2 linked regions of the Homo sapiens genome follow. The protein of the gene in region 2 purifies or fractionates together with the protein of the main gene of each other region. This does not show direct contact. Each region holds a gene or a part of one and is shown on either strand. Other genes may lie near its edges. The genes, in order: RPUSD2 and ALDH8A1.

The links.
Region 1: the proteins of ALDH8A1 (region 2) and RPUSD2 purify together in Homo sapiens (affinity purification with mass spectrometry; 3 studies listed by BioGRID and IntAct, with this or other methods). This does not show direct contact.

What each region holds. Positions count from the first base shown.
Region 1 is NC_000015.10:40,560,829-40,576,936, reverse strand, and holds RPUSD2 (pseudouridylate synthase RPUSD2), read right to left. Parts: upstream 7,639-16,108; 5' UTR 7,600-7,638; coding exon 6,994-7,599; intron 5,334-6,993; coding exon 5,037-5,333; intron 3,411-5,036; coding exon 2,676-3,410; 3' UTR 1,988-2,675; downstream 1-1,987. Other genes in the region: CCDC32 (coiled-coil domain-containing protein 32), read left to right, coding at 13,922-14,165. UniProt on the Homo sapiens protein: Pseudouridine synthase that catalyzes pseudouridylation of mRNAs.
Region 2 is NC_000006.12:134,927,841-134,943,809, forward strand, and holds part of ALDH8A1 (2-aminomuconic semialdehyde dehydrogenase), read right to left. Parts: intron 14,725-15,969; coding exon 14,569-14,724; intron 11,576-14,568; coding exon 11,426-11,575; intron 5,193-11,425; coding exon 4,936-5,192; intron 1,376-4,935; coding exon 1,214-1,375; intron 1-1,213. UniProt on the Homo sapiens protein: Catalyzes the NAD-dependent oxidation of 2-aminomuconic semialdehyde of the kynurenine metabolic pathway in L-tryptophan degradation.

The sequences.
Region 1 (16,108 bases), on a different chromosome or scaffold from region 2:
AGAATACATAAAGGGCTCCTGCAGCTCAACAACAAAAAAATCAAATATGGTTGGCCCTCCATGTCCATAGATTCTGAATCTGTGGACTCAACAAATCCTAGATTGAAAACATTTGGAAAAAAAAATGGATGGTTGCATCTGTACTGAACATGTACAGACTTTTTTTCCTTATTATTCCCTAAACAGCACAGTATAACAGCTATTTATATAGCATTTACTATGTATAGTAAGTAAACTAGAGATGATTTAAAGTGTACGAGAGGACGTTTATATGCAAATAATATGTCATTTTATATGAGACTTAAGCATCTGTGAATTTTGGTATCTTGGGATGAAGGTGGAGGTATCCTAGAACCAATCATGCATGGATACTGAAAGACAATTGTAAATCAAAAAATGAGCAAAGAACTTGGATAGACATTTCTCCAAAGATGATATAAAAATTGCCAACAAGCATATGAAAAGATGTTCTCAGTAATCATCAGAGAAATGTACATTAAAACCACAATGAGATATAATCTCACATCCATTAGGATGGACACTATCAAAAAATGAAAAAAATGACACGTGTTAGTGAGGATGTGAAGAAATCGGACCCTTGTGCAGTTTGTAGGATTGTAAAATGCTGCAACCACTATGAAAAACAGTATGGAGGCTCTTCCAAAAATATAAATTAGTATTACCATATACCCAACTATTCCTCTTCTGGAATTTCCTCCCATCCTGTAGGCTGTCTTTTCACTTTTTTGATAGTGTCTTTTGATTCGCAAAAGTCCTTATTTTGATAAAGTGCAATTTATTTATTTTGTATTTCATTGATTATTATTTTGGTGTTGTATCTAAGAACCCATTGCCAAATTTAAGGTCTTGAAGATTTACCCCAATATTTTCTTCTAAGACTTTTCCTGGGCTCAACTAATCCTTTTGCCTCAGCCTTCCGAGTACCTAGGGCTACAGGCGTACATCATCGCACGCAGCTGATTTATTTATTTATTGTAGAGATAAGGTCTTGCTATGTTGCCCAGGGTGTTCTCAAACTTCTGGCCTCAAGGGATCCTCCTGCCTCGGCCTCCCAAAGTGTTGGGATTGTAGGTGTAAGCCATTGTCCTTGGCCTATTTTCAGTTAATTTTTGTGTATGAGGTAGGGGTCTAACTTTTTTCTTTTTTATGTGAATACCCAGTTTTCCCAGCACGAACTGTTTAAGAAAAAACACATTTGTTTAAGACTATTCTCTCCCCACTGAACAGTCTTAGCACTTTTGTCAAAAACCAATTGACCTTAGATGGATGGGTTTATTTCTTGACTCTTGATTTTATTCCATCACTCTATGTCTATTCTTATACTAATGCCACAGTTTTGATTTGCATTCCCTGATAACTAATAATGTTCAGCTTTTTTTTTTTTCATATGTTAGCTGGTCATTTGTATATCTTCTTTGGAAAAATGTCTATTCCAATCCTTTGCCCATTTTTAAGTTGGGCTGTTAGTCTTTTTGCTAAGACTCTCACATCCAGAATATATAAAGAACACTTACACTCCACAACAAAAAGACTAACAACCCAGAATGAGATGCCACTTCACTCCTACTAGGATGACTATAATCAAAACAAAACAAATGTTGGTGAAGATGTAGAGAAATTGAAACCCTATGCTTGCTGGTGGCAATATAAAATGGTTCAGCTGCTGTGGAAAAGTTTGGTGGATTCTCAAACATTTAAACATAGAATTACCATATGACCCAGCAATTCCACTGTGAGGTATATACCCAAAAGAACTGAAAACATATTTAATGTTCACAGCAGCACTATCCACAATAATGAAATGGTGGAAACAACCCAAATGTCCATTAACTGATGAACAGATAGACAAATCGTGGTATATCCATACAACAGCTTATTCTGCCATAAAAAAAGAATGAAGTACCGATACATGCTACAAGTTGAATAAACCTTGAAAACATTATGCCAAGGGAAACAGAGACATAGGTCACATGTTTTATCATTCCATTTATATAAAATGTCCAGAATAAACAGGCAAATCCAAACAGACAGAAAGTAGATTAGTGGTTGCCAGAGGCTGGTGGAAGGGGAGTGGAAAGTGACCACTTACTTAATGGGTACAGGTTTCCTTTTGGGGTGATGAAAATGTTTTGGAAATATATGAGGTTATGGTTGTACAACACTGTGAATGTACTAAATGTGACTACGCTGTACATCTTAAATTGGTTAATTTTTTTTTTTTTTAAGAGACAGGGTCTCACTCTGTCACCTAGGCTCTGGAGTGCAGCAGCACAATCACAGTTCACTTTAACCTTGAACTCTTGGCCTCCAGTGATCCTTTCACTTCTACCTCCCAAAGTACTAGGATTATAGCCATGAGCCACTGTGCCTGGCTAGTTAAAGTGGTTAATTTTATGTTATGTGAATTTTACATCAGTAATAAAAAAGAAGCCGGAAGAAAACCAGACATCAAAGATGTTAGAAAAAGGGATATATTTACAAACCAAAAAGTCTCCAAATTCCCACTGGAAGGAGGTAGCAAGTATGAGCAGGTCTCTTTAGAAGCCCGTCCTCATTCCTATAGAAACCCCAAGTACTAGCCCATGGGGTCAGCCCTTGCCCTATAGCCCATCCTTGTCACAACCCAAGAAGCAATCCCTCCATTGGCCACACCCTCAGTCCTTTTGCCAGTCATCCTGTGCCCAGGCAGGCATTGGTGAAAAGTACTCAAAGCCTGGCCCTTTATAGCGTAGGGCATGTAGGAACATCACAAGGTCTTGGGGCAAGGGATCCTGTCGCACCAGCCGGCACTCTGCACAGAGTGGGTCTGTCTCTTGATTCATGACATCTGTTTCAACTGCCTTCTCTGATGCCAAGGCTATTGTGTCCAACTCCTGAGGGGCTGCCTCAGCTACTTCCTCCATCTTCTGGGCAGCTGCAGCCAACTCTTCCAGGTCGTCCTTGCCCAACTCTGAGGAGGGGGCCGTAGAGTCTGTGAGTCCTGGGGACAGGTCACCCTCACAGAGATCTAGCACATCCAGGCTCTGTTTGGCCTGGTGCTCTGCTACCAGGTCCCGTAGCAACTCCTCGTTTGTCTTGGGAATGTAGCCGCCCCGGCCTCGAGAAGGACCCCAGGCAACTGAGTTGTAGATGGGGTCGTTGAGAATGGGATGGCCCAAGAACTGAAGGTGGACTCGAATCTGGTGTGTGCGGCCTGTGAGTGGCCGGCACCGTACCACACTGGACTGGCCATTGTAGCTTAGCCTCTGGAACACTGTCTCACAGGGCTTGCCCCGGGGATCTACACGGCACACCCCTACTTTGTAAGACACCACTAAGATGGGTTCTTTACAGGTCACTTCCTCAGTGGGGAACTCCCCTTCCACCCGGCACACGTACTCCTTCTCCAGCTACATAGGAGGGAAGAGGGAGAAAGTCAGTACAAAGCCTAAATTCATGGAGTCCAAACTCTTTGTGGAGTGATAAGGACCAGTGTCAGAAAATTCAAACTCCAGCTCTACCATTCGCCAGTTTTGCGATCTTGGGTACATTACTTAACCTCTAAATCCTACTAACTCATCTAGAAAATGTGAAATTAGAAAAGCATTTACCAGCTGGGTGAGGTGGCTCACGCCTGTAATCCCAGCACTTTGGGAAGCTGAGGTGGGTGGATCACCTGAGGTCGAAAGTTCGAGACCAGCCTGACCAACATGAAGAAACCCCGTCTCTACTAAAAAATACAAAATTAGCCAGGCGTGGTGGCGCATGCCAGTCATCCCAGCTACCTGGGAGGCTGAGGCAGGATAATTGCTTGAACCCAGGAGGCGGAGGTTGCAGTGAGCCAGGATCACACCATTGCACTCCAGACTGGGCAACAAGAGCGAAACTCCATCTCAAAAAAAAAAAAAAAAAAAAAGAAAAGAAAAGAAAAGCATTTACCTCATTGGGCTGTGATAAGCATTCAGTAAGTTAGGCTCTAATGTGCTTGATACTAAGCCTGGTATATAGCATGCACTCAATAAATGTATTATGATTCAGATCCAGAATTACAAGTCTCAGGACAACAATCATTACCATTAAACTCCTCTACCCAAGACTTTTCCAACTACATCTAGAATCTTTTCACCAAGCAGGCTCTCCCCATAATCTTAAAAGCCTTGCTCAGCCTGTCAGCACTTTATTTTCTTATGTTAATTTATTTCTTTGAGACGGAGTCTTGTTCTATAGCTCAGGCTGGAACGCAGTGACATGCTCATGGCTCACTGCAGCCTCAACCTCCCATGGCCAAGTGATCCTCCTATCTCAGCCTCCCAAGTAGCTGGGACTACAGGCATGTGCCACCATGCCAGGGTAAGTTTTTTTTTTTTTTTTTGAGACAGAGTCTCACTCTGTCACCCAGGCTGGAGTGCGGTGGCGCGATTCGGCTCACTGCAAGCTCCACCTCTTGGGTTCACACCATTCTCCTGCCTCAGCCTCCCGAGTAGCTGGGACTATAGGTGCCCGCCACCACGCCCAGCTAATTTTTTGTATTTTTTTTTAGTAGAGACGGGGTTTCACCGTGTTAGCCAGGATGACCTCGATCTCCTGACCTCGTGATCTGCCCGCCTCGGCCTCCCAAAGTGTTGGGATTACAGGCGTGAGCCACTGCGCCTGGCCTTTTTTTTTTTTTTTTGTAGAGATAGGGTCTCCCTATTTTGCCCAGGCTGGTCTCTACCTCCTGGGCTCAAGCTATCCTCCCACCTCAGCCTCCCAAAATGCTGGGATTACAGGTGTGAGCCTGGCCTTGTCAGCATTTTAAAGCTTCAAAATAGCAAACTACTAAGAGAGGCAGTGTATGCCATCTCTAAAGATTTTTTTGGAAACATATGAGATATCCTGCATTTGGCACTTTAGGTGTTGACCTGCCTTAAGGTAGGAAGGTAGGAAGGATGGCCAGATAAATATGAAGGACCACTTCGGAACTCCATGATGCCCTTTTGACACAGAGCATTCGTGAGCCCAAGAAGTGGCCTGTAGGAGACAAAAGCCTGACTCACCTGCCGGTCCCGAACCTGCTCGTGAATTCTCTCAGAGACTGCAGCTGTCTTGGCAAACATAAGCACCCCTGAGGTAAGGCGGTCAAGCCGATGCAAGGGGTGTAGCTCCTTGAGTTGGTGCTCCTTGCCTAGGATGAAGATAACTGTGTTGTGTCGGAAGCGGCCACAGGGGTGAACGGGAATGGAGGAAGGCTTGTCTACAACCACCACATCTTCGTTCTCAGCTAGCAGGCGAATGGGCTCTGCTGTGACTGGTGGCTCATGCCTGTGCACTGTGTTCCGCAAGAAATCATTGTCCTGTCAAAGACATAGGTAATAAGTCAGCCTAGGGACCGCAGCCTGTAATCAGTCAACTTCATATCCAGCTTCCCCTGTTCCTCACTGACATGGAAAAATGGTGAAAGCACATCTTGGGCTGAAAAAGCAGTGTGCAGAGTGTGATCTCATTTTGTAAAAATACAGACAGACACAGGCAGATAGCTGGCACTGAAAAAGTACTGGAAGGACATATGCAAAAATGTTAACTGTGTTATCTCTGGGTGGTTAGATTATGAATGTTTTTTGGCTTTGCTAATTGTATTTTCTCTACAATAAAGGTATTTAAAAGGTAAAATTTTTTAGCCGGGCGCAGTGGCTCACGCCTCTAATCCCAGCACTTTGGGAGGCTGAGGTGGGTGGATCACGAGATCAAGACCATCCTGGCTAACATGGTCAAACTCTGTCTCTACTAAAAATACAAAAATTAGCAGGCGTGGTGGCACATGCCTGTAATCCCAGCTACTTGGGAGACTGAGGCAGGAGAATCGCTTGAACCTGGGAGGCGGAGGTTGCAGTGAGCCGAGATCGCGCCACTACACGCCAGCCTGGGCAACAGAGCAAGACTCTGTCTCAAAAAAAAAAAAAATAAATAATCAAGGTAAAATTTTTTTAATGGAGGAAAAAACCTCCATAAATCATCACTTATTACGATCTTGAACAAACAAAACTAAGGCTTAAGTCCAGGGATATGGGCTCTAGACCAGGATTTGCCACAGGCTCGCTACATGCTCTTGGGCAAGTCATTTATCTTTTCTGGGTCTCTGCTTCCTGTGGAATGTGAGGGTTAGACCAGATCTGTGCTTTAGAAATTGGGATAGGAGAGGGAATTCGTCAATGTATGATATATTGACGCAAATCGATTGATCAATGGAACAAGTTACTCCAAAACCATCCATTCCCCAAATGCTGTAATCGCCTTTTCTCCACTCACAACCATGGTAAACTAGTGTTACTGAGAGGTAAACAGTGTTACTTCTGACAGGGGTGTCTGGTACCTCATAGATGTGATGGAATTTTAAAGGAGTCAAAGCACTGGGCTAAACAATTCTAGTCTCTATCCCTGACATCTCATAACTCTATGTTAAATAGTTTAAGTAGTAGTTATAGGAACATAGGCTTTGGTAGTGGCACTGTTGATAGCCTTACCCCTGTGAGTTTCCTTAGTTTCCTCAGAGGTAAAATGGAGTGGCAATACCTACTTCACAAGGCTGTCATTAGAATTAGTGGACATACAATGTTTAACTTTGTGCCCAGCACACAGTAAAGAGACATAAATGATAGCCCCTATTATTACTATTTGCACAGAGATCTACAACGCAGGGTAAAGTGATCAGTGCCCTTGCCACAAGACGGTGTTTAAAGGAATTATGAAAATTCCAACTTCTGTCCCTTGGAAACAAGGAAGCTGCCTTGAGGAAGAGGATAAACAGGCTGAGTCCTGAAGCACAGACACCCTGGCCACTTGCGGAGGTGGGAAACGGGCTAAAATAGTGTTCCAAATGAAAGCGAGAACGCTTTAGAATTGCCATGATTTTAATCCAGTACCTATGCTTTACTAAGACTAAAAAACAAAACAAAACAAAACAAAACCCGGCCCCTTTTCCTCGCCCGCTTCTGGCCAGCCCCATCAGGACTCCACCTTGAGCACGATGTTGAGGTCCTGCACCGGCTTCTCGTTGAGTTGCAGGCGGCCCGCCCGGACCGCGGCCTCATAGTAGGCCAGGGGCTGAGCTCGGAACTCGGTACTGAAGACGTGCAGCAAGCTGTGGCCCACCCAGCGACCTTTGCAGTAGGTCCGGAAGTCAAAGTAATAGGGCCGCACCTTACGCAGGCCGCCCTCGAAGTAATAACTGGTTTCTGCAAAGTGCTCATCTCCGAAGCTCACCCCGGTCCGCCGCTTCTTCGGGGGCGGCACGACACGCTCCCTGGTTGCGCCCCGCCGCTTCTTATGCTTGCCCGGGCCTGGGGCTGCAGCCGAGGGATGCTCCCCGCCTACTGGGGCCGGCTCCACTTCCCGGCCAGCCGGCTTCGGGGGCCCGGGGGACAGCTCAACCTTCGCGTCGCCACCAGCGTCACCGTTTTGCTGATGCGAAGCCCTCAGCCCGCCCTCTGTCCCAACCTGGGTAGACACTGTTTCTGCCATTGGGCCCTTATCGCCACTCCAAGTCCTGGTAAAGCTAGGGCGCCTAAGGTCGTAGCGCCAATGTCCAAGAACCCTGAGCCATCCGCGGCGGTCCAGCCACATAACCACGCTGCCCCCACTCCACTCCCAGGGTCGCGATCTGAGGACGTCACTCGGCCCCAGCGAATCAGGGAGGCCCAGTCCCGAGGCGGGGTCTGCGATAAGTGAGCGAATGAGTGAGCTGCTCGAATTAAATTAGGTGAATTGAGTGAGCTTAGAGATGAGAGACTGTAAATGTCTCACCAAAAGTGACCTTACTCAGACGTCTTCCTATTAGGGAGATACGACGTTATTTATAAAGGAAACCCTTGGAATTGCTCCGTGTAAAGGCCATGACAGGAGTAGGTCGTGTAAATTCCGAGTAGTCCCTTGGGTCTGAAGAAACGCTTGAAAGGAGCTTTATTTAAGACAAAACAAAAACTAACAACCAGAATAAAGATTGCTAAACTCTGCGAATATACTAAAACCCACTGTATTCTATATTTTAAAAGGGTCAATATTATAGTATGTGACTTGTATCTCAGTAAGATTGTTATATATGTATTTAAAACACACACAAGCACCCCAGAAGCAATGTGTTCACACCTGTGTTTCCCCCTAACAGCATGAGAAGGATTAGTGATCCCCATTCGCCTCCCACATGCTTCCATCCTGAGATTAAAACTGCAAATAGATCAGAGGATATATGGCGAGGGTTCTTAAGTGCAAAATAAACCAACTCTGGCTAATTTCATCAGAGATAGAATTATGGAAAGTATATTAGTGCCTCATAGAATTCACAAGACAACTGGAGACTAGGCTCAGAAAAAGGGCCAAATCAAGGGAAACCAAGCCTTTTGAGAGCCTGGCTTCAGACATGTCAGGGAAGAAACCCAGTTGGGATGCAGTAGACACAAGAAACTATGTTGTGCCAAAGGACTCTTTTTCCTGCAGCCCTGCCACCCCTTGGAGACCCCTAAATCTCCCTGTGTCTCTGTGTCCCTCTTCCAAGGTTAAGAGTCCTGCAGGGGAGGACTTCCATCAGCCAAACCTCATTGCTCTGAGCCCTCACTTCCAGGGTGCCTGGAGATGGAAGAATTTAACCCTCTTTTTTTTTTTTTTTTTTTTTTTTTTTGAGACGGAGTCTTGCTCTGTCGCCCAGGCTGGAGTGCAGTGGAGCGATTTCACCTCACTGCAACCTCCGCCTCCTGAGTTCAAGCCATTCTTCTGCCTCAGCCTCCTGAGTGGCTGGGACTACAGGCACGCACCACCACGCCTGGCTAATTTTTATATTATGAGTGCTGGGATTACAGGCGTAAGCCACCGCGCCCGGCCAAGAATCTAACCCTCTTTGGTATCCAGAGTGGGATTCTTCCAAATAAGGAGGCATTTCAATGTTAGTTTGCCAAAAAAAAAAAAAAAAAAAAGACAGTCTAATTCTTATCCTAGGCATTTGTATTCTGGAGAGGAGAAAGGGAAATCTTTTTTAGCTAAATTCCTTCTTCAAGTCATTAGTCTCACCAAACTAACTGAGGGACTGCAGCTGAGGTATCCACAGCTGCAGAACTCCATATGCTGAAAAGTCTGATTCCTGACTACCTCCAGAAATAAGAGGTAGAATTCTCCATTGATTGTGGGGTATGTTAGAACCAAACTACTTCACAGGAGGGACATCATCTCTCAAGTGCATCATTTCATTAAGATATTTACAGTGAAAGCAGAACCTTATCCAAAAGAAAAGTATGTATTCTTAGCTAGCCTCTTTGCTCCATAGGATTGGGGTGGGAGAATTAAATTAGTTAATTCAAGTAAAATACTTGGACTAGTGCCTGGCAAAACTGTGGAGACAGAAAACATAGCAGAATCTTGTTCCTCCTCCCCTTCTGACCTACTAAATGAGAATCTGCACTTTAACATGATCCTCAGGTGATTTTTCTGCATATTAAAGCTTGAGAAGCACTGGCATAGACCATGTAGAGTAGACATTTGTCATATTCTGTAAACATCCAGCATCTTCCGAACACCCTTCTTTTGGGTGGGGAATTTCTCACATTTCATTACTGCCCCCAAAAGGTAGAAGCCAGAGCCTTCCCACACTCTCTTGCAGCTTGGACATAGGCATTTGACCTGGGCTCTATCTCTTAGACAGAGGCTTTGGTTCAGAGGCACACAGCCGCGGAAGCAGGCTCAGTGTGAAATCCGTGTCTAACAAGGTAGCATTGGAGGCATCTAATCTGGGAGGCCAACAGTCGGGGAGGTTCTTGTGTCAAGTACCCAATCGACGAATAATGCCAGCTATAGATGTTCAGTGGCTGTGGGGTGTTCCCTGAGCAGTCTCTCAGTGAGATTCAGATACTGTCCCTGGCTGTATAGACCTAAAGCCTGACTCTCCACTCACCTTGAGGTTCTGTGAACTATGTAATATTCTCCAATCCTGTGCTATACAATAGGATCACCATTAGCCATGTGCTGTACAATAGCCACATGTGGCTAATTAAATTTAAATTAATTAAAATTTTAACAAGTTTTGAAACAAGATCTCACTCCCATCACCCAGGCTGGAGTGCAGTGGCACGATTTTGGCTCACTGCAGCCTTGACTTCCCAAACTGAAGTGATCCTCCCACCTCAGGCTCCCTAGTAGCTGAGACGACAGACATGTGCCACCATGACTGGCTAATTTTTTGTATTTTTAGTAGAGACGAGGTTTTGCCACATTGCCTAGGGTGGTCTCAAACTGGGCTCAAACAATCCATCCACCTTGGCCTCCCAAAGTGTTAGGATTACAGGCCGGATGTGGTGGCGCAACCTCCGCCTCCTGGGTTCAAGTAGTTCTCCTACCTCAGCCTCCTGAGTAGCTGGGATTACAGGCATGCGCCTCCACGCCCAGTTAATTTTTGTATTTTTAGTAGAAACAGGGTTTCACCATGTTGGCCAGGCTGGTCTCGAACTGCTGATCTCAGGTGATCCACACCCCCTCAGCCTCCCAAAATTCTGGGATTACAGGCATGAGCCACCAAGCCCGGCCAGGAACTGAATTTTAAATTGTATTTTAGCTGGGCGCAGTGGCTCACATCTGTAATCCTAAAACTATGTTGTTTTTGTTGTTGTTGTTTTCTTTTTCTTTCTTTCTTTTTTTTTTTGAGACGGAGTCTTGCTCTGTCACCCAGGCTGGAGTGAGAACTATTTCCTCAGCCAAGTTACTTGGCTACTGATGGTTGGCTGATGTCTTTCATCACGTGTTTCTTGGGAGAGAGTAACTGGTGTTGATCCTGGAAGCTGGGGATGGGGAGGGGTCGATCTCAATGAACAAGCTGGTATCTATCCCCTGAAGGATATCAAAGGTCATCTCCTTTAACAACTACAACAACAAAGCATTCTGACACACACTTCTTATGACCACTCTCTCCTTTATGTACTCTGGCCACACTTCCATCATATACTCTATAATCCTCAACGCCCCCCTCCTTTTTTTTTTTTGAGACAGTCTTGCTCTGTTGCCCAGGTTGGAATGCAGTGGTGCGATCTTGTCTCACTGCAACCTCTGCCTTCCCGGTTCAAGCGATTCTCCTGCCTGAGCCTCCCGAATAGCTAGGATTCCAGGCATGTGCCACCATGCTCAGCTAATTTTTGTACTTTTAGTAGAGACAGAGTTTCACCATGTTTCACCCAGGCTGGTCTCGAACTCCTGACCTCAGGTGATCCACCTGCCTCGGCCTCCTAGAGTACTGGGATTACAGGCGTGAGTCACCGCGCCCGGCTGTCTATCACTGTTTACTGTTATTTGTAAACTTTTATGCCTCCATGGCGGACCCCCTTCCTACACTACTAAGCTGTAAGGATCTCCAGGACTTATATCAAGTCATATGTGTCTTAACTTCACGCTTAACACAATGCTTAGAACACAGCAGGTGCTTGGTATCTATTGACTAAATGAATGAAGGAAAGCTTCATAATTTGATGAATGAGACACGAGTCTCCTGGGAGAGTAAGGAAAGAAGCCGCCGAAGTGCTCTAATTTGGGTAACGAAGGGGTGAAATTTTTAGAAGACAAACACCGACAGAGAAAGTTGTGGAGGAGGTGAACTGGCTCCGGCGACTAGGAAAAGTCAAAAGTCTTGGAAACGACTTCCCTATCCAAGCAGGGACTGGAACCCTGGATCTGCAAGGAATCAACCTGGCCCTCGGGAGGGGAGGGGCAATGCTCAGGGCACGTGACTCCACCGTTTCCCGGCAACCAGAGCCCCGTCCACCGCTCGCCTCTTGCTGCTCCTCACTTCTTCACCACGCTGAGCTCCTCTCGACCAATCGACGCACAGAACATCGTCGGGTGGGAAGGTAGTTGGAGGACTCCTGGGCTCCGTCACTAGGGGACTCCGCCCCTCCCGATTTCCTCCGGGCTACAGGCGACAGAGCTGAGCCAAGCGTTTACTGGGCAGCTGTTACGGTAAGTGAGGAGGGGCTGGGGTGCCCAGCGTTTTGGATCTCCCACTCTGGCCCGGCCCCGGAATACCACATAGAGGCCTTGGGACCTGATTCATCCCGTCCAGACAGCCCTAGAGACCTGAGCGACTGAGGCCTGGGATCTGGACGCCGGAATTTCCTGCGTGGTTCTGGACGCCCTGCCCTGGGGTAAGGGGCCATGCGGGGCTCTGGTGTGAGCAAAGTTTTGGTTTTGGGTGGCTTTAGACGAATTCGGGTTGGGGGTTCACTGTAGCGCTAGACATCAGTTCACCCAGGACCGCCGTGTCATAGCTGTCCCTTTTACTTCCGGCCTTTACGCTGGCTGGGCTCTGTCTCCTGGCATTATTCAGACCTTGCCTCAGGCAGCCTTCCTGATTTCTAAGTCTCCTCTTGAAAGAAGGTGTCAGCCTGTCTCATATGCCTAGATAGTTATAAAAGCCTCCAGGCTCTTTGCGTAGCTTTTCCTACCTGCCCGTGCTTGGGCTGCTTTCGTTATATTTTCCAAACAAGCAGGATGGTATTTGATAAAAACATGGATTCTGGAGCAGCACAGATCTGGTTTTCCTGTCAAGGATTCCCCACATATCAGTAATGTGCCCTAGAGCAAGTTACCCTTCTGAACTTGTTTTTTCATCTGTAAAATGGTGAAAATACCTACCTTTCAGTGATTGTATTAAAATAAGAGCATGAGACATACGGCTGAACTGCATGCGCTGAGCACACAGCCCTTGCATTGTAACAGTACTCTCTGACAGACACTTTTTACCAAGCAGGATCTTCATGTATATGGAACTGTGGAAAGACCTTTAGTCTGTGTTCTGTTGAAAACAGAATTTAGGGGCCGGGCGCGGTGGCTCACGCCTGTAATCCCAGCACTTTGGGAGGCCGAGGCGGGCGGATCACAAGATCAGGAGATCGAGACCACCCTGGCTAAACGGTGAAACCCCGTCTTTACTAAAAAATGCAAAAAATTAGCCGGGCGTGGTGGCGAGTGCCTGTAGTCCCAGCTATTTGGGAGGCTGAGGCAGGAGAATGGCGTGAACCCGGGAGGCGGAGGTTGCAGTGAGCCAAGTTAGCGCCACTGCACTCCAGCCTGGGCGACAGAGCGAGACTCTGTCTCAAAAAAAAAAAAGAAAGAAAGAAAGAAAAAAAAACAGAATTTAATTGACTGGAGATAGAACTGTTGCATTTTGGAGATCTTTGGAGAAAAGTGCAGGCTGGTTGTCCAACCTGGAAATGCCCTACAGATTTGTGTGTGTGTGTGTGTGTGTGTGTGTGTGTTAAAATATATGTAGCATAAAATTGACCATTTTAACTATTTTTGTGTGTATGATTCAGTGGTGTTCACATTGTTGTGCAACCATAACTACCATCCACCTCCAGAACTTTTTCATTTTCCCAAACTGAAACTGTGTACCCATTAAACAGTAATTCCCCATTCTTTCTACCTCCCAGCCCCCAGCTCCCACCATCCTATTTTCTGTATCTATGAATTTGACTACTCAGGTACCTTATATAAGTGGAATCACAGTATCTGCCTTTTGTGTATGGCTTGTAGGAATTCCATTTTTATTTTTATTTTATTTATTTATTTGTGAGACAGGGCCTCGCAATGTCACCCAGGCTGGAGTGCAATGGCGTGATCACCACTCACTGCAGCCTCTATCTCCTGGGCTAAGGTGATCCTCCTACCTCAGCCTCCGGAGTAGCTGGGACTACAGGCATGTGCCACCACACCTGTCTAATTTTTGTATTTTTAGTAGAGATGGGATTTTGCCATGTTTCCCAGGCTGGTCTCGAACTGCTGGCCTCAAATGATCTGACTGCCTCGGCTTCCCAAAGTGTTGGGATTACAGTCGTGAGCCACTGTGCTCAACCTTATGCTGTATTCTTAAAGCCAGTTCTTACTCACTTGAGCTTCTGTTTTATAGCTCAGATTCCAAATGAAAATGTTTGAGAGCGCTGACTCTACAGCCACAAGATCTGGCCAGGATCTCTGGGCTGAAATTTGTTCCTGTCTGCCAAATCCTGAACAAGAAGATGGTGCCAACAATGCATTCTCAGACTCCTTTGTGGATTCTTGCCCTGAAGGTGAAGGCCAGAGGGAGGTGGCTGACTTTGCTGTCCAGCCAGCTGTAAAGCCTTGGGCTCCCTTGCAGGATTCAGAAGTGTATTTAGCATCTCTAGGTAAGTTTGACGGCTCTAGGGAAGCATATTGAAGTTCTGTTACATCAAACTTGGTTTCCTATTCTTTTGTGTTGTTGTTATTCCTGTCACACGTATCTGTCAGATATAATTCCAAGGGATGTTTCAAGCCGGCTGTTGGGAAGCAGCCCCCTTTTCCTTGAACAGATCTTTTTTTATTTTTATTTTTAATTTTTTGAGACTTTCACTCTTGTTGCCCAGGCTGGAGTGCAGTGGCGTGATCTTAGCTCATGGCAACCTCCACCTCCCGGGTTCAAGCGATTTTCCTGCCTCAGCCTACCGAGTAGCTGGGATTACAGGCGCCTGGCACAATGCCCGGCTAATTTTTTGTATTTTTAGTAGAGATGGGGTTTCATTTCACCATGTTGGCTAGGCTGGTCTCGAATGCCTGACCTCAGGTGATCCACCTGCCTCGGCATCCCAAAGTGCTGGGATTACAGGCATGAGCCGCCGTGACTACCCGAACAGCTCTTAAAACAGTTTTTGTCACTTCCTGCCTCTGCCCAGTTCATCTAAATTCTGTGTTTGATTTCTTGGCATTCTGTAGAACCCTCTTGCCTACTGTTGGTTGCCCGTATATTCAAATAACTCAAAAGTGTTAAACCTTATGCCATCCTGCAAGAAAATGTGATGGCCCCAGGGCTACATGTGGATTTCTGATGCTGGAGTTTGAAAAACTTACATAAATAGATTGATTGTTGAGAATGGGAGCATATTGACATAAGATTCATTCTGCCTCTTGTTAGCCATTTTATTTTAAAAATATTTCCTGAACACATTTTCAGTACCCTGTCCTGCGGCCATAGTATAAGTATCTAGAGAGATTCCAAACACAGGAAAGAGATTCAAATTGTCCCATGCTAGGGGAAAAAGAAATATCAGTCTAGGGCGGTGAGGGGCAGTCTTTAGAATTGTAATATCCTTTTATTGTGGAACAACCATGAGATTCATCCATGTTTCACAAAGCCAAACCTGGGAATAAGGCTTACCTTGGCCTCCTGAAGTGCTGGGATTACAGGCGTGTGCCACCGCGCTTGGCCCTAATTTTTTTATTTCAATAGCTTTTGGTGTACAAGCGGTTTTTGGCTACATGGATTAATTGTATAGTGGTGAAGTCTGAGATTTTAGTGCACCCATCACCCAAGTAGTGGACATTGTACCCAATGTGTAGTTTTTTATCCCTCACCCCTCTCCAAACCTCCCCACTTCTGAATCTCCAAAGTCCAGTATACCACTTTGTGTTTTGTTTTTTTTTTGGTTGTTGTTTTGTTTTTTTTTTTTGAGACGGAGTCTCATTCTGTTGCCCAGGCTGGAATGCAGTGGCACGATCTCGACTCACTGCAACCTCCGCCTCACGGGTTCAAGCAATTCTGCTGCCTCAGCCTCCTGAGTAGCTGGGATTACAGTCGCCCACCACCACGCCTGGCTCATTTTTGTATTTTCAGTAGATAGAGAGTTTCACCATGTTGGTCAGAGTGGTCTCGAACTCCTGACTTCGTGATCCACCCACCTCGGCCTCCCAGAGTGCTGGGATTACAGGTGTGAGCCACCGTGCCCGGCCAATATACCACTTTGTATACCTTTGTGTACCCATAGCTTAGCTCCCACTTATAAGTGAGAACGTATGGCATTTTGTTTTCCATTCCTGAGTTACTTCACTTAGAGGATAATGGCCTCCAGCTCCATCTAAGTTGCTGCAGAAGACATTATTTTATTATTTCTTATGGCTGAGTAGTGTTCTATGGTGTATATATTCCATATTTTCTTTATCTACTCATTGCTCGATGGGCACTTAGGTTGGTTCCATATCTTTGCAATTATGAATTATGAAACATGCGTGCAGGTATCTTTTTGATATAACGACTTCTTTTCCTTTGGGTAAACACCTCGTAGTGGGATTGCTGGATCAAATGGTAGATTTACTC
Region 2 (15,969 bases):
TTGCAGGTGTGGGCAGGCAGGCAGGGAGCCCTAGTGTCCAAAAGAGCCAGAAGGAGAGAGAACAAGGGAGTCTCTTGCATCTGGAAAATCTTCACTCCATGAAGGACCATCCACAACTGTTGGTCTCCCTGGACATTCTGGAGACCACTGCCTATGTACCTGCAATCTTGTAGGTAAATTTAGCTGGAGAAAAACAAGCCATGCTGGTCATCCTCACTTTAAATAAATGACCACAAGCCTCAAGTGAGCCCTTTGAGCTGCTCTGCTAATAACTTGGTCATTTCCCAGTCCTTTCTCTCTCCTGACCTACCGCGAGATTATTTCATACCCTCTCCTCCCTCCTGAAACCTTCAACACCTTTTCCCCTCCTCACCCTGACACCTATTTCACTGAGAAAACAGAAGAAATAAGGACAGGCCTTCAAGCTACTTCATCTTTCCATCTGCAGGCAACTGTGTTGCAGTGTCCTGAAAGTCAAAGTTAAATATAGACAAAGTGGGAGTGCACTGTGCAGTGTCACGGATTTCTACAAACTTACGTAAATGCTCTGTCTCTCATTGGCTGGCTGATGGGGACAAGTTTCCCTCAGTGGCACTGAGCTGAAAGCAGAGTCCTTCTGACTCCAAAATGTATGACTTATTTTGGGAGTCACATGTGGTAATAAATTAAAATAACCCTAAATTGCCATCAAGGGCCAGATCTTCTCTTTTTGAAAAATGACCCTAAAGACCTGAGTTTCATCAATCATTCAGAGACTATCAGTGGTTTCTTCCAGATGGGCTACCCCTGGTCCCCCACTGACTAAGGACGACACAATTGGGACTGTTTGTGTTGGCACTTCTGGCTATAAACCAGAGGCAGGCCTTTTCCAAAGAGAATGTTTGCCTGTGGAAATCACTGGCATTCTTCCATATCACCCTTATTTGCTGATCTTTATGTTTTGAAATTTGGCTTCCCCTCTCTACTGGTGGTATCTCCATGCTGACTTCTCAAGTTCATTAATTTCATGTGGATGCACTTTCACCGGGACTGCATTTGCATATTCATATCCACAATGTTTAGACTCTGTGTCCACAATTTCTCCCAGGTTATAATTTTTCAAAAATGGGGTAGTAACTAACAATATTTCAGAGTCTGATTGTGCTATGCCTGTACTGAGCTTCTCTTCAAATAAGAACTTATTCTGTAACTTACATGGCAGAAATTTACTTACTTTCTCCAAATGTGCTTTACTTATCAGAGCACCTATGCTCACCAGTGGATCAGAGGGAATGCCGACTTTCCACTTTCTGGTAGCTTCTACAAATCTCTTTAAAAATTCACTATAGATGCTCTTCTGGACAAAGATCCTGCTGGTACAGAGACAGATTTCACCCTGCCAAGAATGAGAACAGGGATAAGGCTGCGGACACTCTCCTTCATGGATAGAGCACCCTGCACTTTTGAGTACCTGCCATGTATCAGGCACTGGTCTAGGCAATGGGGTACAATGGTAAATAAGACAAAGTTCCCACCATGTGGAACACATAGTCTTGTGGGAAAGACAAATAAGAACACAAGTAAATAAACTCGATAAATAATATAACTTCAGGTTGTGATCAAAGCCATAAAATAAAATTAAGCAGAGGATGGGAATGGCAACTGATTGCATGGGGAGGGGAGCTATTTTATGAAAGGGAGTCTTGGAGGGCACTTGCAAAGAGGGGATATTTGCATGGAATCTTGACTGATGTGAAGGCATGAGACGGGAAAAGATCTGGAGGTGGGGAATTAATTCTTCAAAGTACAGAGGACCTGCAGCAGGAATGAACTGGTGTGCATGAGGAAAAGCAAGAAGGTGGGTGGGGCTGAGGCTGGAAGAGGAGGCAAGGACAGGAGGTGTGTGGTAAGAGAGGAGGTCAGGAGGCCAGCAAGGCTCTATCGTGCAGTCTCATAGGTTCATAAAGAGATTACGTTTTATTCTCAGTATCATGAAAAAATAAGGGAAGGTTTTAAGCATCAGAACGATATGATCAGATTTACATTTTAAAATGCCCATTCTGGCAGCCATGGGAAAATAGGATGGAAGGAAACAAGTGTGGGAAGAGAGCAGAGGAGTTAAGAGAATATTCCAGAAGTCCAGATGCGTGTAGGTAGCTGGGACCAGGGAGGCATCCATGGAGATGCAGAGGAGTGAAAAGGACCCACTGAGTTCAACAGATTCTTCCAGGGGCACGGGACCTCCGAAGTGTGATGAAGTTGGCACAGATGCACTGGAGAAGTGATGAGATTCAGGATATACCTTAAAGACAGAACCAACAGGACCTGTCGATGGAAAGAGAGGGCAAGAACAAGAGTAGGCCGCAGAGTGGATGGTGGTGTTGTTCCCTGGAAGGGCAGACACGAGGTGGAAAGAGGATTGGTATTGCAAGGAAGGGAGAGGGAGGGAAACGAGAGCTCTGATTTGGACACGCTGGGTTTCAGATGCCTCACAGACATCAAATAGAGATACTGAGTGTACAGGGGAGGGGTTATAACAGATTTCTCAGTGAAAAATAACCCTATCATTTGAACATAGCATGTAACAGTTTAGACTTAGAGTTGGCATGTAACCACATTCTAGACTTTCAAAGCATTATTTATGCATGAAAAGTACAGAAATGCATAAATATTTTCACCATGTTTGTGTCTGACTTCACAACAATCTTAGAAAATAGAAGGTTCCTGATTGTCTTGGTATTTGTACAAAGGTACATTGTCCAGATTAAACTGTTAATGTTTTGAAATAACACATTCTTTTTGCAACCAGGATCGCTGTTAGGATCATCTCCATATCTAGCTTGGGAAATGTCTAAACACTTGATAGTTTCATTTGCGCAAGCGCCCTGTGACATCAGGGAAGGAGAGCATGACGAAGAGGCTAGAGGGGTTTACCCAGTTCCCTGTTGCTCTGTGCCTAGAAAGCGTAGGTAAGCATACCAAGATGCCCACAAGAAAGACTTTGGAGAGATTAAGAAAAGGACAGTATCATTCGTTGAGTGCCTATCGTCAAGCCAGACACTGCGCAGGGTGCTTTCCTCATTATAAATAATTCTGTAGCCTGTTAGCTTTTCCAGTTTACAGGTAGGAGAAAAAGTTTTGAATTAGTACATGTCCAGGGTCACACAGAGATGCTTCAAAAAAGCCAATTACATTCAATTAAGGAAGAAATATGCACGACACGGAATTCATCGCTCAGCTAAATCAAGCTGCTTTATTTATTTTGCCTAAAATCCATTTGTGACCTTGGATTAGCCAATTAGTTAGGCGTATGTCTCTTTCCCTATTTCCTTTTTAAAACAACCCCAAAAGGAAGGTTCTCTGGGCAAACTCAAATCGTAGCACAATTCTGGTAGGAGAGAAGATTACACTTCTTATCTCCATGTTCAGAATTTGTTTTGTTTGTTTGTTTGTTTGTTTTTGAGATGGATTCTTGCTCTTATCTCCCAGGCTGGAGTGCATTGGTGCTAACTCGGCACACTGCAACCTCCACCTCCCGGATTTAAGAGATTATCCTGCCTCAGCCTCCCGAGTAGCTGAGATTACAGGCGCCCACCACTATGCCCAGCTAATTTTTGTATTTTTAGTAGAGATGGAGTTTTGCCATGTTGGCCAGGCTGGTCTCGAGCGCTCCTAACCTCAGGTGATCCACCCACCTCGGCCTCCCAAAGTGCTGGGATTACAGGTGTGAGCCACCATGCCTGGACCCTCAGAATTTGTTTAATACAGAGTTTACCTTTCTCTCATCTTAGTTTCTCAGTCCACAAAATTTGTCCCTCTGTTGTTGTCTGTAAGCCATGAAAACACTTGGTTTAAATGTTCACCTGAAACTTGCTTAATGATTAAATTAGTTGTATTGTAAAAGTATATTGTCTATTGATCCAGAAATTATATTTCTAGCCACTTCAAGAGTTACAGTGAGAGAAATAATTACACTTATGATTATCATGAAGATAATAATTGAAAGTAACATTTTTCACTCTATACTCATGAAAACCCTGTTAGAAGACATCATTATTGTTCACATGATTTTATTAGTGAAGCAATGCAGTTTCAAAAGTTTATGCACTATTCAATGTTACCTGAGTTAGCTCAATATAGACATCTCTCATTTCACTGCTGTTTCCTTCTATGAAGTTCTAAGTCTTTGGCCTATGTTTTTACTCTCTGTTAAAATAAAAATATCCTTTGAAGAAAATCATCCAGGGTTTATGTACACCTGCTATATCCTGGGCAGTATTCTAAGCATTGACATTGAAAATACCACACAAAAGCAGGCAGCGTTTCCATCTTCTTGCAGCCTACTGTTTAGTTGATCTGGTGTAGTGTTCTTAACTCTTTGGAATGCCATAGCCTTAAAGAATCTGACAAAAACTACAGAGCACAGAGAAACATCTGTTATGTAATTTCAGGAGCTACAACGATGCCCTGAAGCTGATCCATGAATCCACGCCAAGAAATCTTCTCTAGTCAGTTTCAGGTATTTGGAACTCAGTGGATGAACGCATTTTGAATACTTTTGAAATGAGAGTAAGGTTTACTGGGAATAGGACATTTGAACGACAAGCAAAGACAGGGTTTAAGAAAAGAATAAAAGACAAGACAGGGCAGCTGTGTGAATAAAGAAATGGAGATGCTTGGAGCAGCAACATCAATCATTCCACCCATGGCTGGTACCTGATAAAAGCTGTGCAACTCAAGAAGAGGAGTTTGCTGAACAGAAGCTGTGACTCTGCAAGGCCACTAATTAATGTTAAAATTGAGCAGAGAGTTAAGGGAATCACACAATGTACTGATCCTGCTTTCTCGGAAATGGCACTGGATTGACTGGCTTGCTCCCAGGCATTGCACTGTGATAAAACAGATCCAGCTTGACAGGGCCATGGAGGGGAGGGAGAAGAACCCCCGGGGACATACCTGGTTGGCAAAGCTGGACCTGACGGTTGCCGGAATGCACTCATCCAGGTTGGCGTCCTCAAAGATGATGGCAGGATTCTTGCCCCCCAGCTCCAGGGAGAGCTTTTTGCAGTGGGGAGCGCTCAGCTGGGTGATCCGCTCAGCGGTGGGCTGGCTCCCGGTGAAGGAGATCAGGGGCACCTCTGGGTGGGACACCAGGGCCTCACCCACCCTGGGCCCGGTTCCAAACACAATATTGACCACACCTGGTGGAACACCTGGATAGGAAACAGTATCAGTTATAGTAATTCTCAGTATGTTGAAGAGTTCAAGTTACTTGGAAATTCTCCTTTAAAGTCCAATCGCTTGAATGGGAGTGGGTAGGGATGGAGGAAGCACTTGGGTTTTACAACACTTGGAACTTCTATGGCTGCCTCTGGTTTAATAGCAAAGCAAAAACCACAGATTCACCTCTGCCCACAGTAAACACCAGGTGGGATTCCACTGGATGCTTTGCCCTAGAGAGATGCAGGGTGGAACATATTTTAGGTGATTCATTCCATAATACTGGCTAGGCCTTAGGGGTTGAGGATGCAGAGATAGTCTCAGGCAGGTCAAGCCCACTAGGGGAGCAGCACCCTGCTCCATCTTGGTGTCCAGGAGTCACAATGCTGTGTGAAAACATTAAGTAGAGAGGTGTATACATGCTGCAGAGGTGCAAAGAAGAGATTGACTATCTTGGCCCAGGGAAGCAGGGCAAGACTCCCCAGGGAGGGTGGGTTTCAGGTTGGAAGTCATGTCCACCATGCTTATAAATAGCATCATAACACTGTAGTGCCAACTTACAAGTACCACAAACAACCAAAAATGGGTGCCCCAATCTTTTCTATCACAAGACTCTGCTACCCTGTATCTTCGTGCATTTATGCATGTGTTTTCTTGTTTTATTATTTTATTTATTTATTTATTTTTGAGATGGAGTCTGGCTCTATTGCCAAGGCTGCAGTGCAGTGGCACCATCTCGGCTCACTGCAACCTCTGCCTCCCAGGTTCAAGAGATTCTCCTGCCTCAGCCTCCCGAGTAGCTGGGATTACAGGCGTGCACCATTACACCTGGCTAAATTTTGTATTTTTAGTAGAGAGGGGATTTCATCATGTTGGCCAGGCTGGTCTCGAACTCCTGACCTCAAGTGATCTGCCCACCTCGGCCTGCCAAAGTACTAGGATTACAGGCATGAGCCACCGCGCCCAGCCTATCCATGATGTTTTCTGGACTTACTTGTTCATTGCCTGCACACAACTAGAAGGTACACTAGCTAAGGGCAGAAACAGTGTCTGTTCTTTGCTCTCCGTTGTTTACTCTGTGCCACAGCCTAGTTTGGCATTGAGAAATAAAAATAAAATCCTAAGCTCCCCCAGTTGACTGAATGCAGCCTCTCTTGGCCAAAGCGATCCCAGAGAAACCTTAAAAACTGAGTTCCCAGCCATTATGGGATGAGAGGTCAAACACGCCATAGTATGACTCTTCCTTATTAATCTTTAACCAGAATTCTTTCCTCAGTGTAAGCAGAAACCAGCTCTAAAAAACAAGAAATGGATAATCTATTCCTTTATCGCCTTTAGCTAACCATCTGAAACTGCAACCAAATTTTCCTCCCTCTTTGCAGTTTGGATGTGACAGCTCACCAGTCTCACAACACATCCCTTCCTAAAAACTGATCACCATCTCGACTGGTTTTGGCTGACTTCCCGAGGATACGTAGTGAGGGTTTTCATGTCCTCTGCTTCACCTTTTGACATCAGAGGGCCAAAAACTCAACCCTCGGAACATGCTAAGGCTGCCATTTTTTGAGCACGTGATCCAGAATTCATGTCCACCATGTATATAAACGCATCATAACACTGTTATATAACACTACTCAGGAGGCTGAGGCAGGAGAATCTCTTGAACCCAGGAGGCAGAGGTTGCAGTGAGCCGAGATGGTGCCACTGCACTCCAGCCTTGGCAATGCAGCCAGACTCCATCTCAAAAATAAATAAATAAATGAAATAATAAAACAAGAAAACACATGCATAAATGCATGAAGATACAGGGTAGCAGAGTCTTGTGATAGAAAAGATTGGGGCACCCATTTTTGGTTGTTTGTGTTACTTGTAAGTTGGCCCTACAGTTTTATGAGCGCATTAAGCTCATCTGTGCATGCACCTGTTTCCCCTTTCATAAATATTCATGACTCCTCCCATATCCTACTGAATGTGAATATTCAGCCACTCTGCTCAGGATAAATTTCTGTTCCCTTTGCCCCTCCTCCAAGTACTTGTTCTCCGCTTTGGGCAGAGGCTACGCTTCCCAGCCTGCAAGATGGCTAGCCTGCAGGCTGCAACCCTTTATAAGAAATAAAACCCTCCTTTCCAAATGCATGAACCTTATGATTCTTCAGTTGATAGCACATGGAACTCAGACCAGTAAATGCAAACATTAGATAGGGTGCTTACTGTGGACTCATCACTGCTATCCGTGACTCACACACTTCAGTCTTCACAACAACCTTAGGATGTAGGTAGTTTTATTACACTTAGTTCACCAGGAAGAAATTTGAGGGAAAGTGAGATTGAATAACAATCAGTAAGCAGCAAAGCTGACAGGTTAATGACTGTTAAGTAAATGAATGAGTGAATGAATGCTTAGTGTACGTTATTCAAATTAGAAATGGTTCATGAATGGGGAAGCTTTAAAAAGAAAATCATCTTTATAATATCCAAAAAGAAAGTCATCTGTATAATCACGCTGTGTCTAGGCAGTTCTTAGGGTCTGCCTGGAGGTAGCAGAGTTTATTCCCTCTATTTCCTCAGGCCTGACCTACGGTAGGTGCAGAAATCTTGCAGCATCTCGGCTTTGTGACCTGCTTCCTTGCTTCTGGTTTCCTTCCCTTTGCTCCAGGTTAGACAATCTCTCCTCATTAGAAACATACTCCTTTGGATACAACCCATTTCTTCCAGAATCTACTTTTAAATTATAAATAATATAAATACTAATTTCACACTGATGATCCATTATCATCCAGAACATTCTCCCATACAGCCACAGCCTTGGCCCAATCACCTTGAAGCTACAGTGAAGGTCCCATCCCAGTGAGTCCTCAGGAGACAGGTGGGAAGATTCCACAAGTTGTGATGGTGCCTAGCAGAGCCCCACTTCTTTTTTTTTTTTTTTTGAGATGGAGTCTCGCTCTGTCACCCAGGCTGGAGTGCAAAGGCGCAATCTCTGCTCTCTGCAACCTCCGCCTCCTAGGTTCAAGCGATTTTCCCACCTCAGCCTCCTAAGTAGCTGGGATTACCGGCACTTGCCATCATCCCCAGCTAGTTTTTGTATTTTGGTAGAGATGGGATTTCACCACGTTAGCCAGGTTGGTCTTGAACTCCTGACCTCAGGTGATCCACCCACCTTGGCCTCCCAAAGTGCTGGGATTACAGGCATAAGCCACCATGCCTGGCCAAAGCACCACTTCTAAGCATTGCATCTCTTTACCCAACATGCACATTTGTTGAAATCTAGCTTAGGTCAGTCCTGGATTGTAGGTCACTGTCAGAGGAGTGGCTGGCACCATGTGAGAGCACCCCAGCTTTGGGTTGGGGCAAAGGAAAGTGTGGAAGGAGAGGATCCCCCTCAGTAGGTGATGCGACGAAACAAGGACAAGTCTCCCACAGTTTCCTGGGTAGGGCCCCACATCTCCACCAGTGATGGGGCATGCATGTGGGTGGATGGGGTGTGGGGCAGGAGGGGGTGGACTGTTAGGCTTTATCAATCCTGAAGGCAAAAAATGAATGGAATCACTGCTAATGTTCAGAGTAGCATTTTAACTGAGGGTGAGAGAGAATGCGGAAGCACTGCATATTTATCCCCACAGTAAAATGCGCTCACTGCGGCAGCGGATTGCTTTCCCCACGACAGTATTATCATTTTGACTACATTCCCTTGGGCTTGGATGCTAATGTCAGCTGGCCATTATTTCTCAGTACCATTTTGACATTTTATCCAGAAATTAATGGAATTTTTCTTGAGATGTCTGCCCTCTAACCTTGAAGAGATTCTGGTGATAAGAGAAGGAAAGCAGTTTAACTGACAAATAGCAATTTAGCAAAACTCAGGGGAGGTGGCTAACAGACAAGTTAGGAACAGACGAGAACAGACTAGAAGGAAACCCCTCAAATGTAGGGGCTTGGCAGGGTGGCAACAAGAAAAATTTTAGGCTTAAATAGAGCACACACACACACCCACCTACACACACACATCTCCTGCTCCACACACACACCTAATGGGAAGGGCCAGGAAAACGCAGTCAGTGGGCACTCCAGGAATGAGGGCAAATTTCCAAGAAGAAATGACTATTCCAGGAATCCCACAGAAGTATTCACTGTGTCATCTTAAAAATGAGTTTATTTTAAAGGAAGTTTATCTGTCAAGTCTGTTTAAATGCCCAGGACTAGAGGAGCTAACTCTTTAAACATCCAGAACGAATTAGTTATTTTCGCTTTTCCCTCCCCTACTAAAAGCTTCTCTTACGTTGCTCTAAAGCAGATGACACAGATGTGGTTCGCATTCCTTCCAATCCCAGTGGAGAAACTGAGGGCTCAAGAGAGGAGCAAGGTGAACATGACCCCCTCTATATTTGTCAGGGGAGGAAGTTTCAGCCCATGGAGGAAAGAGGAGAAGGGCTGTCTTAGTTTAATGGGCTTACTAGTTCCCAAGAAATAAAATCAATGCTGTGCAGAGATGGAAACAGAAACTGTCATGCAGGCCAGGTTCAGGGCAGACTGGCTGGGAAAGATAACTCATCATCTATCCAGACGTTCTTGGTCTCAGGAGAGAGTGGTTAAGGGAACACGGCTCTGCACGCCACCCCTGCCTCCAAATCCCAGTAGAGGGCAAGCCCCAGGCCTAGTCCACTCTGGGGAACCTGCAGTCACCAGGCAGGGAAGAAGTATGTCGCGCCTTTGCAGACACCACAGACCTCATTTTACAAAGAATGGGATTAGACTGTGAGGTCTTTTGTAGGGGAGGAACATGGGAAGGGTCGGCACATTTAAATGATATACCCCGCCCCACCCCCTCCACCTCGAAGCCTGGGAGCTCCATAGATGACAAATCAGAGTCCTAGGCTGGGAGGCCTCATTCCTCTGGAGGACCCTGGGATCGTAAGGCCCAGTGCCGTTCCCTAAACAGCCTCAGTTTTGAGCCTTCATCTTCCTCGTGGAGTAAAGAACTGGCTAGGGTTTACTGGAAGTTAATGTGTATGTCTGTGCTTCTAAGAAAGGTGTTCCGAAGCGGGAGAGAGGGACGGACTCTTACCCACCGGGCATTCTGTGGATACAGGAGAGCCCAGCAGTGCCTCTCTATGGGCTGAAAGGCAGCAAGGAGACCAACTAGAAAGACAGTGAGTCTGTCTCCCCCACCCAGCACTCCTGCCCTGGCCGTGGGGTGACATAGCAAAAAGACCTCACATTAAGGGGACTTCTCACAGGAGGGCTGCTGGGGTCTCCTGCCTGCTGCCTTCAAACAGTGCCAGCCTGTGCCTGTGCGGAGCTACAGCCCAGAACAAAACCAGGAGCGCATCCTGAATGCGGCCAATAAACTATTAGCAGAAAAAGAACAAGGAGCAAACGTGTGAACCTTGATATGCTAGGAAGAGGCCATATTGTATTAGCTTTCCAGTAGCAGTCCCAAAGGCAGGAAAAACTGAAGGATGTATATTTAGATCTCTTGAAATCGGGCTACTTCTACTAGGTATTCTATAGCCAAGCAAACTGTAGGTGTACCTAGCAATATTCTTATTGTCATCAGGATTAACTTGTGATTCAAGATTTTATTTTATTATTATTATTATTATTTTATTTTTTAATTTATTTTTTTGAGACGGAGTCTCACTCTGTCGCCCAGGCTGGAGTGCAGTGGTGCAATCTCGGCTCACTGCAAGCTCCGCCTCCTGGGTTCATGCCATTCTCCTGCCTCAGTCTCCCAAGTAGCTGGGACTACAGGCGCCCGCCACCACGCCCAGCTAATTTTTTGTATTTTTAGTAGAGACGGGGTTTCATCGTATTAGCCAGGATGGTCTCGATCTCCTGACCTCGTGATCCACCCACCTCAGCCTCCCAAAGTGCTGGGATTACAGGCGTGAACCACCACACCTGGCCCCAACTTAAGATTTTAATTGACTCTCTGGAGCAGGCAGGTGTCTTTGATTTGATGGGGCTGTTTAAGTCTGCGTCACTATTGTGCTGCCAGTCGCCCACCCTGGGGAGTGGAACTTGCCTGCAGTAGCACCGTTCTGGTGTTGAAGACAGGAAGCAGGGTGAGGGAACCCTGTGGGTGGAGGGGATTTCCCAGACAAGGATCAGAAAGACAAAGCCCATGATGTCACTGGAATCGATTGTGCTGCTGAGTGGAAGATTTCTATAAACTATAGGTTTGCTCCAACTCTGTGCCTGCCCCCCAACCCCAACACCTAATTACCTGCTTTATCCAGGAGTTTGCACAACATCCACGCAGTCACTGAAGTCAGCTCACTGGGCTTGGCTATCACAGTGTTCCCTGCAGCCATCGCTGGAGCTATCTTCCAGGTCAGCAAGTAGAGTGGCAAATTCCAGGGGCTGATCAGACCAGCTAAGGGATGAGAGCAGAAGCACTGCCTGTGACGGCATACCCCTCTGAGGTGGACTGGCCAAGTGGGGTTATTAACGCAAAACTCCTTCATGCTGCAGAAAACTTAGCTTACTCTTCTAACTTCTTCCCAAGCTTTGCTTATTTGTAGCCACTTTCAGGGAAATAATTCTAAAATATATTCCAAGCAACTGTATCTTTTAAAACAGAGTAAAGTCAATATGATTTCCCCATTTCTTGGCAGTTCATGATTATGAACAACAGCAATATAAACTCCAGAGCTAAAGAGTTGTCACCTATCATATACCCAAAGAAATATAAATCATTCTATTATAAAGATACATGCACGCGTATGTTCATTGCAGCACTTTGCTATTCACAATAGCAATAGCAAAGACATGGAATCAACTCAAATGCTCATCAATAATGGATTGGATAAGAATATGTGGTACATATACACAATGGAATACAATGCAGCCATAAAAAGGAACGAGATCATGTCCTTTGCAGGCACATGGATGAAGGTGGAAGCCATTATCCTTAGCAAAGTAACACAGAAACAGAAAACCAAACACCTGCATGTTCTCACTTATAAGTGGGAGCTGAACAATGAGAACACATGGACACAGGGAAAGGAACAACACACAGCAGGCCCTGTCAGGGGAGAGTCGGGGGGAAGAGCATTAGGATAAAGAGCAAATGCATGCTGGGCTTAATAGCTAGGTGATGGGTTGATAGGTGCAGCAAACCACCATGGCACACGTTTACCTATGTAACAAACCTGCACGTCCTGCACGTGTACCCTGGAACTTCAAAAAAAAATAAAAAATAAAAAAACAGTTGTCACCTGTCACTAAACAGTTCCAGAATGTGACGCATTTTGAGATTTATAGACTGAGCTTTACTTTTTCAAAAATGTCTCCTTCCCCATTATTTTAACGGTCTGGCTGTTATTTCTTCTAACATGTTTCTTTACCTTTACTTCAAATCTGTCATGGGTTGAGACATAAAATCTCAAGCTTTATATAATTATTCATAAAATAGGGGCCAATGAGTTCTGAGTGTTCCATGTGAGGGCCCTCCTATCAGTAAAGCCAATAACCTTTGGTGCATGGACTGTGACATCCATTTTGGCTATTTAGAATATTTTTAAATAAAAATTCTCTCTAGATTGTCACTTGTATCCTGACCAGATAGATTTGCTGGATGAGTAACGTAACCAGCAGCTAGAATGTGTCTCCATGCAATATTCTGAACCTATCCAGGTTTCCAATCACAAAACAAACAAATATAAAAATCTACCTTCTGAAAGGAAATTGATTCACCTTATTTTATACTCTTCCCTCAAGCCTGTGCTATGAAAGTAAATGCATCTTTTATATTATTAAATTTCCCACTGAAAAATCCATTCTTTAGGGGATAAAAATATTTTTGCAGCAAAATATATTAGCACACTTCCTAGGAGGAGGTAGAGCTTTCCACAATGCCTTGAAAACATAATTTCTGAAGGTTTCAAGTAACCAAAGCAATGAGATGTCCCAATTGTTTTCCTTTTAGCTTATATTCATAAAATGTAATAAGCTAAAAAGATGATTTTTTTCTCCGAGGAAACAGTGACATCTGGTGGAAGGTTTTAGTCATCACAGACATTTATTTATACGTTCTTCCAAAGGTCAAGAGGCAAAGGAATGCATGAAGTAAGATAATTCTCAGTAGAGGCTTATTTATCACACACCTGGCACCATACTACATGCCCTACACTTATTAATTTATTTAATGTACATAAATAGTTCTTTCTTTTTTTTTTCTTTTGAGACAGAGTCTCGATCTATCACCCAGGCTGGAGTGCAGTGGCACCATCTCAGCTCACTGCAACCTCCGACTCCCAGGTTCAAGTGATTCTCCTGCCTCAGCCTCCCAAGTAGCTGGGACTACAGATGCATGCCACCACGCCCGGCTGGGTTTTTTTGTTTTGTTTTGTTTTGTTTTTTTGAGACCGAGTCTCACTCTTGTCGCCCAGGCTGGAGTGCAATGGCACAATCTCAGCTCACTGCAACCTCGGCCTCCTGGGTTCAAGCAATTCTCCCTGCCTCAGCCTCCCAAGTAGCTGGGATTACAAGTGCCCGCCACCACATCCAGCTAACTTTTTGTATTTTTAGTAGAGATGGGGTTTCGCCATGTTGGCCAGGCTGGTCTCGAACTCCTGACCTCAGGCGATCCGCCAATCTTGGCCTCCCAAAGTGCTGGTATTACAGGCATGAGCCACCGCGCCCGGTGAATTTTTGTATTTTTAGTAGAGACGGGGTTTCACCATGGTGGCCAGGCTGATCGAATTCCTGACCTCAGATGATCCTTCTGCCTCAGCCTCTCAAAGTGCTGGGATTACAGGCGTGAGCCACTGCGCCCAGCCTGATTTTTCCTTTTTTAAATATAAGTAGAAAAAAAAATCCTGGCATGTGAATTTACATATTTACTCTTAGCATCATTCTTTTCCCTATGATTTTCCAGATAAGTCATGAACATGAGGCCTGGCGTGGTGGCTCACGCCTGTAATCCCAGCACTTGGGGAGGCCGAGGCGGGAGGATAACTTGAGGTCAGGAGTTTGAGATCAGCCTGGCCAACATGGGTGAAACCCTGTTTCTACTAAAAACACAAAAATTAGCCGGTGTGGTAGCTCGCACCTGTGGTCCCAGGTACTCAGGAGGCTGAGACTAGAGAATCACTAGAATCCGGGAAGCAGAGGTTGCAGTGAGCCGAGATCATGCCACTGCACTCCAGCCTGGGCGACAGAGCAAGACGCTGTCTAAAAAGAAAAGCAGGGAATTTGACACAAAGAAAATAAACTAGAAATAGATCTTTGAGGCCAATGGATTTTAGAAAAGAAAAATATCAGCTCTTCCTTTTCTTTAACCTGTTCCTTGAGGACAATGCCATAGAATGTTGTGAGCATCTGCAAGCATAACCGGGAGGTGGGCTCTCACTGAACAGCACTCACCGACTCCCACCGGGGCCCGCACCGTGTAGTGCATGCAGCCCAGGTGGTCCATCTGCGTGCACTCTGACGTGTGGTGCAGGCTGGAGGAAGCGAAGAACCTGAAGTTCTGCACAGACCGGGGAATGTCCATGGTTCTTGCCAGTGCTAAGGTTTTCCCTGTAAGAAGCAAACAACATAAAGCACTATCAGCTAATGGGGACACTCTATCCATCAGCTTCCACTGCCCACGCGTCCCAACTCACACTGAAACAGCCTGGATTCCTTCTAGCCCGGGGCAGGCATTCCTTGACCTCACAAAGACTTGATCATGGTTTGATAAAACCATACAATATTTAGGTATAAGGTTGGAAACTGAGGTGGGGGGTTAAAATTGAGTCAATAATCTTTGTTCTGTGAACTGAACACATCATTCTCATCACCAGTTTGCCAGATGCTACCACTTCACCCACACAAACTCTTGCAATTCAAAATCACCAGGCTTTGTACCTGCGACAAAGGCATTGAAATACGGGTGTTAGGACAGTTGTAATTGCACAGCACAAAACGAAACACTTTTATACACATGTAATGTGTATTTCATGACCTCCCCACACATGGTAGAGTCATCAGAAGAGCGGCTGGGAATGCCCTGGCACGGGATGCTGTGTGGCACCTGCTTGCCCATCACATGCCCTGCACGTCCTAGCTCCTGGATGGAACAGAAAGAGAAACAGAAGCTTACCTAGACTGCTACTGAGTTCTCTTTAGCGATGCAGGGAGCCTGGCCAGGAACACCAGCAGAGAACTATTTTCTTTTTAAGGGCTTGGACTCAGGCTGCTTTCTGATTTTTGATTGGTTTATGGCACACATGTAATTTTTAAAACTCTTGGCTTATCTTAACAGATATTCTTGCAAAAATTTACAAATATTTACTCCATTACTCTGACCTCTGGGAAAGAGTGGGAAAAAAAAATGAGATGTGTCGGGAGTGGAATGGTGACTGACATATCAGAAAACATCCTAAATAATCTGACTGCATAACTGCTTTTCAAATTATCTTTGCTTTGAAATTCTCTGCTTAGAATGAGTAGGAGACTGCATGATCAGCCCTAGTTCTTCATCTCTCCCTATATCCATGCCCTTTGCTGTATATATTTGCACTTCCTTTCATCCAATGAACAGAGTATATTTCTTTGCCCCTCAGCTTTTGGATCCAGCCATGTGACTTTCTCTGGCCATCTGAATGAGACAGGGCTGGGCCAGCCACAAGTCCTGGCCTTCCCAGGCCTGGAGCAGGGGAGGGTTTGCTCTCCACTTCTACTATTGCCAGAGGAGCAGGCACATGGGCTGGCCTGATGGCCCCAAGAGGGATAACATGAATAATCAGAGATGCCCTGAGTCCCATGTTACAGTTAAGAGGC